2 separate regions of the Homo sapiens genome follow, and region 2 is linked to region 1. Evidence: fine-mapped expression QTL. Tissue or cell type: whole blood. Region 1 holds a variant in brackets; the other region holds the start of a gene. All regions are shown on one strand. Distances are from middle to middle.

The links. PIP is the estimated chance that this variant, and not a neighbour inherited with it, causes the effect.
Region 2: it holds the start of TMPRSS9, and the variant in region 1 is fine-mapped to the expression of TMPRSS9 in whole blood (INTERVAL, PIP above 0.99).

Annotation. Positions count from the first base shown.
Region 1 is chr19:2,464,915-2,472,739 of GRCh38, forward strand. No RefSeq gene overlaps it. Among named protein-coding and RNA genes, the nearest start is that of LINC01775, 6.6 kb to the left of the region's middle. RefSeq lists an enhancer at 4,637-4,736. The variant G/A (reference allele first, on the strand shown) is at 4,254.
Region 2 is chr19:2,356,299-2,364,123 of GRCh38, forward strand. TMPRSS9 (transmembrane serine protease 9) reads left to right here and starts at 3,967. Exons shown (of 19, transcript NM_001395513.1): 1 at 3,967-4,062. RefSeq lists a silencer at 2,286-2,497.

The sequences.
Region 1 (7,825 bases):
CAAGCGATTCTCCTGCCTCAGCCTCCCCAGTAGCTGGGATTACAGGCATGCGCCACCACACCTGGCTAATTTTGTATTTCTAGTAGAGATGGGGTTTCTCCATGTTGATTAGGCTGGTCTTGAACTTCCGACTTCAGGTGATCCGCCTGCCTTGGCCTCCCAAAGTGCTGGGATTACAGGCGTGAGCCACCACACTCGGCCAAGAGATTTATTATAAGGTATTGATGCACGGGGGCTGACAAGTCACAACATCTGAAGTCTGCAAGCTGGAGACCCAAGAGAGCCGATGTTCCTTTTTATTTTTATTTTTTTTGAGATGGAGCTTCGCTCTGTTGCCCCAGCTGGAGAGCAGTGGCATGATCTCGGCTCACTGCAACCTCTGCCTCCTGGGCTCAAATGATCCTCCCCCCTTAGCCTCCCGAGTAGCTGGGATTACAGGCATGCGCCATCACGCCCGGCTAATTTTTGTATTTTTAGTAGAGACAGGGTTTCACCATGTTGGAAAGGCTGGTCTCAAACTCCTGACCTCAAGTCTCCTGCCTCCCAAAATGCTGGGATTACAGGCGTGAGCCACCATGCCCGGCTGAGAGCTGATCTTTCTGTTTGAGTCTGAAGACAGGAAAAAGCTGATGTTCCAGTCTGAAGGCCTTCAGGTGGGAGGAATTCTCTGCTCCCCAGGGGAGTGGCAGCCTCTGTATTCCATCCGGGCCTTCAGTGAATTCCGCAAGGCCCACCCGTGCTAGGGAGGGTAGTGGGTTTGAGTGACTCAGTGAGTCTACTGATGCAAAGGGTCAAAGGCTCATCTCATCTAATAACCCCCTCACCGGCATGCACAGAGTAATGTTTGACCAAATATGCAGGCACCCACAGCCCAGCCATGATGGCATATAAAATTAACCACCGGGCGGGGCGCGGTGGCTCACGCCTGTAATCCCAGCACTTTGGGAGGCTGAGGCTGGTGGATCACTTGAGGTCAGGAGTTCAAGACCAGCCTGGCCAACATGGCAAAACCCCGTCTCTACTAAAAAATACATAAATTAGCCAGGCGTGGTGGTAGGTGCCTGTAGTCCCAGCTACTGGGGAGGTTGAGGCATAAGAATCACTTGAACCCATGAGGTGGAGGTTGCAGTGAGCCAAGATTGCACCACTGCACTCCATCCCGGGTGACAGACTGAGACTGAGATTCTGTCACCAAAAAAAAAAAAAAAAAAAAAAAAATTAAGCATCATACAGCCGGGTGCAGTAGCTGCTCATCCTGTGATCCCAGCCCTTTGGGAGGCCAAGGAGGAAGGATCGCTTGAGGCCAGGAGTTCAAGACCAGCCTGGGTAACAGAGCAGGGCCCCATATCTACAAAAAATAAAATTAGCTGAAAGCGCCTTTGCAAAAGTTCTATCAGTGAGAAAAAAAAATTTTTTTTTTTTGAGACGGAGTCTCGCTCTGTCGCCCAGGCTGGAGTGCAGTGGCACAATCTCGGCTCACTGCAACCTCCGCCTCCCGGGTTCAAGCGATTCTGCTGCCTCAGCCTCCCAAATAGCTGGGACTACAGGCACGCGCCACCATGCCCAGCTAAGTTTTGTATTTTTAGTAGAGATGGGGTTTCACCATGTTGGCCAGGATGGTCTCGATCTCATGACCTCGTGATCCGCCCGCCTTGGCCTCCCAAAGTGCTGGAATTACAGGCGTGAGCCACCACGTCCAGCCGAGAAAATTATAACAGTAGGCTAAACTAACTAACCCCCATCTTGCCTTAATTATTCCTGGGCTATTGGGCCCAGCTAACTTGGGAAGACATTTAGGCTACAGTTTAAGTGATAGTAGACCTTGCACAAAACCCAACAGCTTTTGTCAAGCTAACCTGAGGCCTTCAGGTTGAGGGAGGAGGGGAGCCTGACATCTGTTAAGGTGCAAACGTTATTCTGGAGGTTATAAGATATGCAGCTTCCAGGCCAGGTGCGGCGGCTCACGCCTGTAATCCCAGCACTTTGGGAGGCCAAGGCGGGTGGATCACTTGAGGCCAGGAGTTCAAGACCAGCCTGGCCAACATGGTGCAACCCCATCTGTACTAAAAATACAAAAATTAACCAGGCTTGGTAGCCCATGCCTGTAGTCCCAAATACTTGGGAGGCTGAGGCAGGAGAATCGCTTGAACCTGGGAGGCAGAGGTTGCAGTGAGCCGAGATCTCACCACTGCACTCCAGCCTGGGCGACAAAGCGAAACTCAGCATGCAAAAAAACAAAAAAAAAACAAAAAAAAAACAAAAAAAAAGAGATGTGGTTCCCCCAATTACTCCTGCAAATAACACCATTATTGTAGTTTGGCCTTTTGAGATGTCTTTCCACGTGTTTTGCATGTCTGACACCCGTGGCTCCACCTGGACTGACAACCCTGCTCCTGAGGTTCCACACAGAAGCGATCTGGCCGGCAGGAGGACCCCTGCAACCTGCTGTGAGTCCATCTCTGCCCCCAACCAACCAGCAGCAAGCACCTGTTTACCTGGCCCACTCCCACTCCTTCCCACAAAACTGCCCTTGAAAAACCCCTAACCTAGGCTGGGCGTGGAGGCTCACGCCTGGAATCTCAGCACTTTGGGAGGCTGAGGTGAACGGATCACCTGAGGTTAGGAGTTCGAGACCAGCTTGGCCAACATGGTGAAACTCCATCTCCACCAAAAAAAAAAAAAAAAAAATTAGCTGGATGTGGTGGCGTGCACCTGTAATCCCAGCTATTCAGAAGGCTGAGGCGGGAGAACCTCCTGAACCCAGGAGGCAGAGGTTGCGAATTGCTTGAACCCAGGAGGCAGAGGTTGCAGTGAGCTGAGGTGGCGCCACTGCACCCCAGCCTTGGTGACAGAGCGAGACTCGTCGCAATAAAGAAAAACCTCTAACCTATGAGGTTTGAACAAGTTGATTTATGAATTCCATCTCCCACGTGGCGTGGCCAGCCTCATGTCTATTAAACTCTTTCTCTACTACAATGCTGTGGTCTCTTTCTCTTTCGTTGTTTCCTTTCTTTTCTTTTTTTTTTTTTTGAGACAGTCTCACCCTGTTGCCCAGGCTGGAGTGCAGTGGCTCAATCTCAGCTCACTGCAATCTCCGCCTCCCGGGTTCAAGCGATTCTCCTGCCTCAGCCTCCCGAATAGCTGGGATTACAGGCGCCCGCCACCACTATGCTCGGCTAATTTTGTATTTTTAGTAGAGACGGGGTTTCTCCATGTTGGCCAGGCTGGTCTCGAACTCCCGACCTCAGGTGATCTGCCCACCTCGGCCTCCCAAAGTGCTGGGATTACAGGTGTGAACCACCGCGCCCAGCCTCTATTTTTTTTTTTTTTTTAAGTAAAATACTTTGTTAGACTGGGGGTCTCCCTATGTTGCCCAGGCTGGTCTCAAACTCCTGGACTCAAGGAATCCTCCCACTTTGGCCTCCCAAAGTGCTGGGATTACAGGCGTGAGCCCCTGCACCCAGTCACGTGGTCTTTCTTTATGCAGTGGGCAGGAAGAACCCCTGCATAGCGGGGTGTGGTGGCCCATGCCTGCAATCCCAGCTATTTGGGAGGCTGAGATGGGAAGATTCCTTAAGTCAGGAGTTCAAGGCTGCAGTGAGCTGCGATGTCACTGCATTCAAGCCTGGGCAATAGAGCGAAGCCCATCTCTAAGAAAAAAAAAAAAAAAAAAATTAACCACCCTGGGGGATCACTGGAGCCAGGCCCGAAGCTGCCCACCATGCTAGCATTGTCTGCAATGCCTGCTGCCGGGGGTTCCAGCTGTTCCGATGTCTGTGAGCAAGTGTGTAAGTTGTAAAATACTCAGTGCAAGGCGAATGATTCCTGTCCATTGTGTAGCAAGAAATTTTGCCTCGACCAGAGAGAGATCTGGCTTTTGTTTCAGCCACTGGGAGGTGACTCTTAGGCCCCAGGAATGTCCTGCCTGATGGATATACCGTTCTGTTTTTTTTTTTTTTTTGAGACAGAGTCAGAGTCTCACTCTGTCTCCCAGGCTGGAGTGCAGTGGTGCGATCTCAGCTCACTGCAAGCTCCGTCTCCCGGGTTCAAGCGATTCTCGTGCCTCAGCCTCTCGGAGTAGCTGGGATTACAGGCGCCTTCCGCCACACCCAGCTAATTTTTGCATTTTTAGGAGAGAGGGGGTTTCACCATGTGGGCCAGGCTGGTCTCGAACTCCTGACCTCAAGTGATCCATTCGCCTTGGCCTCCCAAAGTGTTGGGATTACAGGTGTGAGTCACCGCGTCCGGCATTC[G/A]AGTGGCTTTCGAGGTCACTACAGTAGGGGAGGTGTACGGAGCACTTTCTATGCCAAGCCCATTCTAGGTCCTTGTTTTGGGTAAACATTTCCACAACCTGACTTTTCCCATGAAAAGAGGGAGTTTCAGGGAGGCTAAGCCACCAACCCAAGGACACACAGCTGATGACGGCTGCAGGTGGGATTTGAACCAGGCAAACGTGACCTCAGACAGAGCCTCTCCTTCTCCCTCTCTCTGCGAGGCATAGTCCCAGACCTGCCAGCCTCTTGCTGTGCACAGTTTCCCTGCCCCTCCCCTGCCACTGTCCTCAGAATTTCCCAAATGTGCCTCAGCCTTCGCCGTAGCCTCCGCTGCCACCTGGCGTGGTGATCCCACCTCCTCCCACCCCAGGCCTGTCTTACAAATGTCTGCAAGTTCAAATGATGACTCAGCTCCATCCCGAAACCTCTCCTTGGGGACAGGAGTCATGTCTTGCTCGTTTTGTTCATCTTTGCAGAAAAACATGATGTCAGAGCCCAGCCGCTGCCAATCACTTCCTGGCTACATCCGGAGTGACACGCAGACCCCTCCCCGCAGCCCCCAAAGCCCGTCTCTGTGAGCTCATCTTCCCGGCTCTCCCTCTTGCTTACTCTGTTCCACCCCCAGGGCCTCCTTGGGATTCCTCAAATGCAACAGGTGAGGTCCTGCGTCAGGGCCTTTTCAAACACTGTGCCTGCTGCCTGGGACCTCTGCCCCCAGAGCCCCTTGAACCTGACTTTTTACCGTTTTTTTTTTTTGAGACAGAGTCCTGCTCTGTTGTCCAGGTGGGGTGCAGTGGCATGATCTCGGCTCACTGCAATGTCTACCTCCCAGGCTCAAGTGAGTCTCCTGACTCGGCCTCCTGAGTAGCTGGGATTACAGGCATCTGCCACCACGCCTGGCCAACTTTTTGTATTTTTAGTAGAGACGGGGTTTCGCCATGTTGTCCGGGCTAGTCTCGAACTCCTGACCTCAAGTGATCTGCCCTCCTTGGCCTTCCAAAGTGCTGGGATCACAGGCATGAGCCACTGCACCCAGCCCGCCCCCACTTTTTTTTTTCTTTTTGAGGCAGGGCCTTGTTTTGTCGCCCAGGCTGGAGTGCAGTGGTGCGATCATAGCTCACTGCAGCCTCAAACTCCTGGGCTCAAGTGATCCTCCTGCTTTAGCCTCCCGAGTAGTTGGGACTACAGGTGTGCCCATCAGACCTGGCTAATTTTTAAAAAATTATTTGTGGCTGCGTGCGGTAGCTCACACCTGTAATCCCAGCACTTTGGGAACTCGAGGCGGGTGGATCATGAGGTCAGGAGTACGAAACCAACCTGGCCAAGATGTGAAACCCCATCTCTACTAAAAATTAGCCGGGCGCAGTGTAATCCCAGCTACTTGGGAGGCTGAGGCAGAAGAATCACTTGAACTCGGGAGGCAGAGGTTGCAGTGAGCTGAGATTGTGCCACTGCACTCCAGCCTGGGAGACAGAGAGAGACTTCGTCTCAAAAAAAAAAAAAAAAAAAAAGGCCAGGCGTGGTGGGTAACACCTGTAATCCCAGCATTTTGGGAGGCCGAGGTGGGCGGATCACGAGGTCAGGAGATCGAGACCATCCTGGCTAACACGGTGAAACCCCATCTCTACTAAAAATACAAACAATTAGCCGGGCGAGGTGGCGGGCGCCTGTAGTCCCAGCTACTCTGGAGGCTGAGGCAGGAGAATGGCGTGAACCTGGGAGGCGGAGCTTGCAGTAGCCGAGATCACACCACTGCACTCCTGGGTGACAGAGCCTGGGTGACAGAGCGAGACTCCGTCTCAAAAAAAAAATTATTTGTAGAGATGGGAGTCTTGCCAGGTTGCCCAGGCTGGTCTCGAACTCCTGAGCTCAAGCGATCCTCCCCACTTGGCCCCCAAGGGGCTGAGATTACAGGCATGAGTCTACCCTTAGAGACAGAGGCTGCACGAAGTCATGATCACACCACTGCACTCCAGCCTGGGCAATACAGGGAGACCTTGTCTCAAAAAAGAAAAAGAGAAAGGAACTAATCTCATTAGAAGACTCCACTCTCATGAGCTCATCTGACCCTAATCACTTCAAAGCCCCCCCGCAACACCGTGCCCAGCCTGCAGTACGTTTTTTTATTTTTTATTTTTATTTACTTATTTTTTTGAGATGGAGTCTTGCTCTGTCACCCAGGCTGGAGTGCAGTAGCGCGATCTCGGTTCACTGCAAGCTCCACCTCCTGGGTTCACACCATTCTCCTGCCTCAGCCTCCTGAGTAGCTGGCACTACAGGCGCCCGCCACCACGCCCGGCTAATTTTTTGTATTTTTAGTAGAGACAGGGTTTCACTGTGTTAGCTGGGATGGTCTCGATCTCCTGACCTCGTGATCTGCCCACCTCAGCCTCCCAAAGTGCTGGGATTACAGGCGTGAGCCACCACACCCGGCCACATTTTTTTTTTAACTCTGAATGAATGCAAAAACCTCTATGCTGGATAAAATTTTAAAAATTTATTTTGTTTAAAGCCAAATACGGTGACTCACGCCTGTAATTCCAACACTTTGGGAGGCCGAGGCAGGCAGATCATTTGAGGTCAGGAGTTCGAGATCAGCCTGGCCAACATGGCAAAACCCTGTCTCTACTAAAAATACAAAAAATTAGCTAGGTGTGGTGGAGGGCGCCTGTAGTCCTAGCTACTTGAGAAGCTGAGGCAGGAGAGTCACTTGAACCCAGGAGGTGGAGGTTGCAGTGAGCTGAGATTGCGCCACTGCACTCCAGTCTGGGTGACAGAGCGAGATTCTGTCTAAAAAAAAAAAAAAAAAAAAAGATTATGACAGGATTACTCATACTGATTATTCCTCTCACCTCAGGCTCCAAGATGGCCTCGGCGACACTGTTATTGATCTCATTTTTTATTTTATTTTATTTTTAGACACAGGGTCTCCCTCTGTTGCCCAGGCTGGAGTGCAGCGACACAATCATAGCTCACTGCAGCCTCAAACTCCCAGGCTCAAGTGATCCTCCCACCTCAGCCTCTCACGTAGCTGGGACTACAGGTGCGCACCACCACGGTCGGCTAATTTTTAAAATTTTTGTAGAGATGGGGTCTCCCTATGTTGCCCAGGCTGGTCTCAAACTCCTGGGCTCAAGCAATCCTCCTGCCTCGGCCTCCAAAAGTGCTGGGATTACAGAGGTGAGTTCTGGCGCCCAGCCCAAAGATAATAGCACACATTTCCTGAGTGCTTACCTGATTCTGGGAATTTCCTCCTTCAATGCCTGTGATGAAGCCTTTGTGTGACTGTTCCCATCTTACAGAGAAAGAAACTGAGGCTGGAGCTCATTTTCTTTTTTTTTTTTTTTTTGAGAAAGAGTCTCACTCTTGTTGTCCAGGCTGGAGTGCAGTGGCACGATCTCGGCTCATTGCAACCTCCACCTCCCGAGTTCAAGCGATTCTCCTGCCTCAGCCTCCTGAGTAGCTGGGACTACAGGCATGCGCCACCATGCCTGGCTAATTTTTATATTTTTAGTAGAGATGGAGTTTCACCATGCTGGCCAGGCTGGTCT
Region 2 (7,825 bases), 110 kb before region 1:
CGTCCACCTGTGACCACCTGCGGTCGTGGGCAAGTCCCTCTGCCTCCAACTCCCTGTCCTCTGGAAAGAGGGTTAGTAATGTACCTACTGCAAGGCACGACAGCCAGGATGTCACCAAATCAGCCATCTGATTGGACGCTTAGAAGCAGTCGGGACTTTTGTGCTAGTGACACACTTGATTCAGGAAGACGGGCTCCTGCCAGGCTCAGCCGGTGCCTGAGCTCCGGGGGGTGTGCACACCTCGACTGTCCAGGTCACACACGGTCCAGGGATGTCAGGGAGAGGTAGAGCTGGGGAAATGGAAACAGGCTGCTTGTTGGCACTGGGGAGGGTATTTTGTTTCTTTTCGTGGGGAGCATCCCTCTGTCTTGCAGTTTAAGTTACAAAGTGGAGCAATATGGTAACAATAGTGATTTTCTTTCACTAAGCTGACCAGAGCTTACACATTTTTTATCCACCCACCTATCCATCCATTTATCCAACTGGCCATCCACCCATCCATCCATCCACCCACCCACCCATTTATGTAACCATCCATCCATCCGTCCGTCCGTCTGTCCATCCATCCATCCGTCCATGCATCCATCCACCCACCCACCCACCCATTTATGCAACCATCTGTCCACACATTTATCCATCTGTTCATCCACACACCCACCCATTCACCCACCTGTCTGTTCAGTTATCCATCCGTCCATACACATACCCTCCATCCACTCATTTATCCAACCATCTATCCACACACCCATCCACCCATTTATCCACCCATTCATCCACCCATTCACCTATCCACCCACTCATCCATTTATCTACCCATCCATCCACTCATTCATCTATCCACCCATCCATTTATCCAACATCCATCCACACACCCATCCATCTATCCGTCCATCCACCCGCCCACCCACCCACCCATCCACACACCTATCCATTTATCCAACCATCCATCCACCTATCCACATACCCATCCACCCAGTTATCCAACCACCCATCCACTTATCCACATATCCATCCATCCAGCCACCCATCCACACACCCATCCACCTACTTATCCACCCATCCGTCTCCATCCATTGATCCACCATCCATTTGTCCATCCATTTACCCATTCACACATCTATTCATCCATCCATCCATCCATCCATCCATCCATCCATCCATCCATCCATCCATCTACACACCCAACCATCCACTCACCCACACACCCACCCATCCACACACCCATTCATCCATCTATCCATCCATCCATCCATCCATCCATCCATCCATCCATCCATTCATCCATCCATTCAACCACCCACTCACCCATCTATCCACCCATCCACCCATCTACCCATTCATTCATCCACCCACCCACCCATTTATCCATCCATCCACCTATCCACCCACCCACCAATCCATCCATCCATCTACCTGCCCATCTAGCCATTCATCCATCTACCCACCCCTCCACTCATCCATCCATTTGCCCATCCATCCACCCATTATTTACCCCTCCACCCATCCATCCATCTGCCCACCCACCCATCCATCCATCTACCCACCCACCCATCCATCCATTTGCCCTTCCATTCAACCATCCATCCACCCACCTTCCACCCACCCACCCACTCATCCATTTACCCATCTATCCACCTGTCTACTCACCCACCCATCCATCCATCCATCCACCCATCCACTCATCCATTCATCCACCCACTCACCCACCCATCCACACACACACCCATCTATCCATTTATCCACACACACACCCATCTATCCATTTATCCACACACACACCCATCTATCCATTCACCCATTTACCGTCCGTCTGTCCATCCATCCATCCATCCCTCCATCCACCCAACCACCCATCCACCCATCCACACACACTCATCCACCCACCACTCTTCACTGCTGTGTGCCAGGTCCTCTACTAAGCACCCCGTCTGGCCCAGGCAGAGAGCTGCTATAGCTGCACGAGGAACCGGGACTCAGTGTTTGGGGCCAGGTGGGAAGTCATCAGAAGGTGAGAGGGTGGAGTTCTGGAAAGAGTCCACCAATGGCCCTGAGGAAGAGAGGAGGGGGTTCCCATGGGGTCACAGGCTCTTCTCCACACGGCTCAGAGCAGGTTAGAAATGCCTCTTGGGAACCAACCGCAGCCTGCAGCCTGACAGGAGGGTGGGCAGAAGAATGCAGCAATAGGAGGCCCTGGGTGTGGAGCCCCAGCTTGAATCCCAGGAGCTGGATGACTGGCTCTCAGGGCTGTAGCCACTTCTTCTGCTTAAAAGGAGGTGACAGCTACTTTTGTGAGGCCATCATGAGAACCTAGGGGAGTCCCTGCCGAGTGCCGGGCACACAGCACATACTCAGTAGACTGGACCATTCTGCGGGCGACTGGGGAAACGTGGACCCAGGAGCTGGATCCTCCAGGACTGCTCTCCCTCCAGCACCAGGCGTGGCTCCCCGGGACTTGCGGCACTTCTCAAAAGCAAATCACCAACAAAGACGCTCTGCCAAAGGTAATAAAATGGGGCTGGTCTCTAAAGGCAGTTCCAAAAAAAATTTCCGCAAAGTCTCTTGAGATAAGAGAGGAGACAGTGGTTCTAACGAAGTGCACCGTCTCCTTCGACGGCACGGAGGAACGTGAACAACCTGGTGACCTAAGCAGGAGGGGCGGCCAGCGTGGCAGCGGGTGGCGCGTCAAAACTGAGGCCACCCAGTCTGACCATGAGGGAGAAAAGCACCAGACAAACCCACTTGAGGCGTGTCCTGCAAAACACCTGACCTGCCTTCCCCAGGAGCGGGCAGGGTGTCAGAAATAGGAATGTCTGGGAAACTGCGACAGCCCAGAGAGATCCGAGGAGGCGTGACGCCTAAATGCCACGTGGGATCTCGGGTGGGGCCCTGAGCAGGAAAGGGCATTGGGGGAAACTGAGGAAACTGGAATCAAGTGTGGACTTCACAGTCGTGCATCAATAGTTGTTCATTGGTTGTGACAAATGTATCACACTGGCCTGGATGCCAGTAACAGGGGACCCGGGATGTGGCGCACAGGGGAGTTCTGAACTGTCTTTGCACATTTTGTGGGAATCTAAAACTCTTCTAAAACGTTTAGGCTGGGCACGTTGCTGACTCCTGTAATCCCAGCGCTTTGGGAGGTCGAGGTGGGAGGATGGCTTGAGCCCAGGAGTTCGAGACCAGCCTGGGCAACATGGCAAGACCCCATCTCTATTTTTTTAAAAAATTAAAAATTTATATTAAAAATACTGTAGTTCCTTCCCGGGCAACATGGTGAGACCCCCATCTCTACTAAAAATACAAAAATTAGCCTGGTGTGGTGGCAGGCGGCTGTAGTCTCAGCTACTCCAGACTCTGAGGTGGGAGGATCACCTGAGCCCGGGAGGTCAAGGCTGCAGTGAGCTAAGATCGCGCCACTGCAATCCAGCCTGGGCGACAGAGAATGAGACCCTGTCTCAAAACACACACACACACACACACACACACACACACACAAAATGGTTACACCAGTGCCCTAGAAAACGCCCTCAGCACCTCGCCCCCAGGGCTGTCCTGGGCACACCCCTCCCTGCGCCCTGTCCTGAGTCACCTGCCCAGGTGGGCCCACCTGCCCACAGCGCCCACTCTGCGGGCAACCCCCACCCCATGGCTCCCAGCTGCGAAGCCCACTCCCATCCCTGGCTACCCCCAACCCCTCCCCATCTCCATCGTCTTCCACTCTGGGTTGGCTCCCGCCAGGGTTGGGAATCCAGGGTGGAGGTGGCAGAGCCCTGGGACCCCTGTCCTCCGGAGACTCCAAGCCTGGGCGGCACCCCCGGCCCGGAGCAGGAGGTACTGGGGAAGGGGCTTGGCAGGGGGCCGGGGGAGGGGCGGCTCCCCCACCCGGCCCCGCCCCGCCCCTCCCTTCCTCCAGCCCCGGGCCCAGCTCCGGCTTCTGCTCCACTTCGGGGTGGGCGGGATCCGGGCAGTAGCGGTGCAGCCTCGTCGTCCGGAGCGCGGTGAGTCGGGGTCTCCTGCGGGCTCAGCCTCCCCTCGGAACAGCCCCCACTTCCTCCAACCCCGGTGAGTCGGGGTCTCCTGCGGGCTCAGCCTCCCCTCGGAACAGCCCCCACTTCCTCCAACCCCATTCGCCAAGCCCCGGGGCTGTTTGGTTGCCTCTGGGGCTGTGTAGAGGTGGCGTGGCGGGAGTGTGTAGATGCAGCCAGGCTGTGTAGACACCACCGGGGTTGTGGAGAGGCAGCCGGGGCTGTGTGGACGCCACTGGGGTGTGTAGACATGGCCAGGTTGTGTAGATGCGGCCAGGGTTGTGTGGACTCAGGTGCCGCGTGTAGATGTGGCCGGGGTTGTGTGGACGCAGGTGCGGCGTGTAGATGCGGCAGGGGTTGTGTGGACGCAGGTGTGGTGTGTAGATGCGGCGGGGGTTATGTGGACGCAGGTGTGGCGTGTGGATGCGGCCGGGGTTGTGTGGACTCAGGTGTGGTGTGTAGATGCACGTAGGGTTGTGTGGACGCAGCCGGGATTGTGTGGATGTATCTAGCGTGTGTAGATGTGGCTGAGATTTCTAGACGAGGCCAGGCTGGGTAGATGCCGCCAGGGTGTGTGGACGTAGCCGGGATTGTGTGGATGCAGCTGAGATGTGTAGATACAGCTGGGGTGTGTAGATTCGGCCTAGTTCCTGGAGGGGCCTGGGACCGCCGAAGCCCTCCCCATCCCTGTTCCCACCCAGAGTCCTCCCTTCTTTTCTACCCGTGAACTTCACCTAAAGCAAGAACCAAGCATCAGCCTGGAGCCCTCTGGGGTCAGGGGTGGCGGGAAAGGGGCTGACAGCTACTGGGATGGGGTGCAGGGCTGGGGTGGGAGGTGAGTCTGGGGTGTGGTGCGGGGCTGGGGTGGGAGGCTGGGGTGGGAGGTGGGGCTGGGGTGGGAGGCTGGGGTGGGAGGTGGGGCTGGGGTAGGGTGCAGGGTTGGGATGGGGTGGGGTGCTGGGATGGGTTGGTGGGGTGCAGGGCTGGGATGGGTTGGTGGGGTGGGGTGCGGGGCTGGGATGGGGTGGGAGGTGAGTCTGGGGTGGGAGGGGGGGCTGGGGTGGGAGGCGGGGCTGGAGTGGGTGCCAGGCATCTGACTGGAGCCTCTCCTCCCGCCCCAGTTCTCACCCTCGGAGCCGCTTCTGAGTAAACACACACTGGGATGTAACAATTGGAGGTGGGTGAAGGGCCTGAGATGGGGTGGGTTGTTGGTATTTGCCTGAGGGAGGGTCCTCCTGGATTCAATTAGCCCCGGCAGGAAACCCAGGCTGGGGACCGTGGCGTTATCCCCGCATGACCGGGAATGACCCACATTCTGGGAATTAGGGCGGGGTCCCCAGGACAGGCGTCCGTGCTCGAGGGTCCTCTGTGGCCCAGGGACCTTCGACTTCCTTCCGTCATTTTATAGGGGGTCAAACCAGGCCTCGGACCCAGGCATGGGCTCCAGAGGTTGCCAGAGGTTTTGGGGACTTGCCAAAGGGTTCAGGCACTGCCCCGCAGGACTGCATGGCCGGAAACACCTTGTGGGCCGCGTGGTGGCCACCGCCTTGCAGATCAGGGATGCCCCGCAGGACACCTGTGGTCCTGGCTTCCTGACGCCTTCCTGGGGGCCTGGCTGGGTGGGGCTGTGTGAGATTCTGGGTGAGTTGTCTGTGTGGCTGTGTGTGATTGTGTGTGATCATGTGATTGTGTGTGATGTGTGGTTGTGTGTGGCAATATATATAATTGTGTCTGTAGCTGCATATGGCCATGTGATTTGTGTGTGATTGTGTATTATATGTGTGTGTGGGGTCATGAGTGATCGTTTATGTTGTGTAATTGTGTGATTGTGTATGGTTGTGTGTGGTCATGTGTCATGTCATGCGTGATTGTGTATGGTTGTGTAATTGTGTGGTCGGGTGGGATCGTATATGGTTGTGTGTCGATGGCTGTATAACTGTGTGTATAGTTGTGTGGTCATGTGTGGTTGCGTATAGTTATGTCATGATGTTTGTGTGATTGTATAGGATTGTGTGTGGTTGTGCGAGATTGTGTGACTGTGCAGCCATGTGTGTCATTGTGCCTGTGATTGTGGTGGAGGTGTAATTGTGTGTATGGGTGTGTGACTGCATGTGTGAGACCGTGTATGGTTGTGTGTTGTATGGGAGGTTTCTGCAGCTGTGTGGTTATAGTGTACGGTTGTGTGTGTGATTGCATGATGAGAATTGCATGATTTTGTGGATGGCTTTGTGTGGTTGTGTATGGTTGTATAATTGTGTTTGTGTGTGATTGCATATGATTGTGGCAATATGTGTAATCGTGTCTGTATGACTGTGTATGGTGGAGTTGTGATTGTATCAGTGTATGACTATATGTGTGAAGTTGTGTTTAGCTGTATGGTCATTGTATGTGAGATTTGTGGAGTTGTAACGTGGTTGTGTGTGTACTTGCATGATGAGATTGTGTATAATTTGTGGATGGTGGAGTGAGGTTGTGTGTGGTTGTATGTGGTTGTGTGAGGTGTGTTTTGTGAGGGTGTGTGTGGTTGTGGTGTGTGGTTGTGTGAGGTTGTAATGTGTGGTTGTGTTTGGTTGTGTGAGGTTGTGTGTGGTAATGTGTTGTGTGTGGTTGTGTGTTGTGTGTGTGTTGTGTGAGGTTGTGGTTGTGTGTGCAAATCCCCTCTTCCTAGTCTTCTCATCTGGGGCATGGGGATCAGGGTCCCAGCGCTCAGGCTGGCCTGACCGTGGGGTAATTGGGCCCTGCAGAGCCTCACGCCGCCTGCTTGTCCTGCCACGCGGAATGGGAGTCCGTGTGTGCCCCGCTGCCCACAGCGTGTGAACGTGAGTTGGGGACCATGTGGCCCACTGCGCGCTGGGTCCCGTCCCTAAAGAGCATTCTTGGACTGTCTAAAATTCCCTTTGCAGAATTTGGAATGTTTAGGGTGTAAAATACGGAGCTTGGAGAGTCCTTAGGCAAAAGGTGTTGGTGGCCGGTTGCCCAGGCTGGGGACTCTGTCCGCGGGGCGAGAGCTTGCAGGAACGCTGGAGCATCGGAGTTCAAACCCTGTTGTCACTGTGGTTGGTTAAGGGCTTTGCGGAGACGTGGAGGCATGGTAGATGGATCGCAGGTGAGGGCGGAATGAAGGCAAAGGCGTCCCTTCTCTGATGGCAGACACATGGGTGGAGATTTGAGGTAGGAGCAGTTGTGGGGGGGTGGGGGGACAGGCGAGAGTGTGGGAGGGAGTGAGGTCGCGTGATTCCCCGTGCATCTGTGCGTGCAACTGTGGGTGATGGAGCTGGTGCTTGGGGAGGCAGGACTGGACCCTGGGTGCCGACACTGGGGCAGGGTTTAGAGCTCCCGGCCCTGCGCCCCTCGGTCCCCCAGGCTCACCTGGCTTAGCTGGGGAGCAGGGTTCTCGGGGAGCATAACAGGGAAGCTGCCCAGCAATGTGGAGGAGTCACTAGAATTCCAAGAACTCTGTGTGTGAGTGTGTGTGTGTGTGCGTGCGCGCGTGTGTGTGTGAGAGAGAGAGAGAGAGTGAGAGTGGGAGGGAGGGAGGGAGGGAGAGGCAGAGAGAGCCTTAATCTCCTCCTCTGTAAATGGGCATGCTGATATTAGCTGGACCTGTCTCCTGTATACCCTGGGATTATTGGGAGGGCTGGATCAACTCTCATAAGCCTATGAGCCCTACACCAACAGGACGCTGTTGGTATAAGCACATCTCAGCCTCCCGGTAGTCCTGTAGACCCAGCACCTGTAGTCCCAGCTACTCAGGAGGCTGAGATGGGAGGATCGCTTGAGCCCGGGAGTTGGAGGCTGCA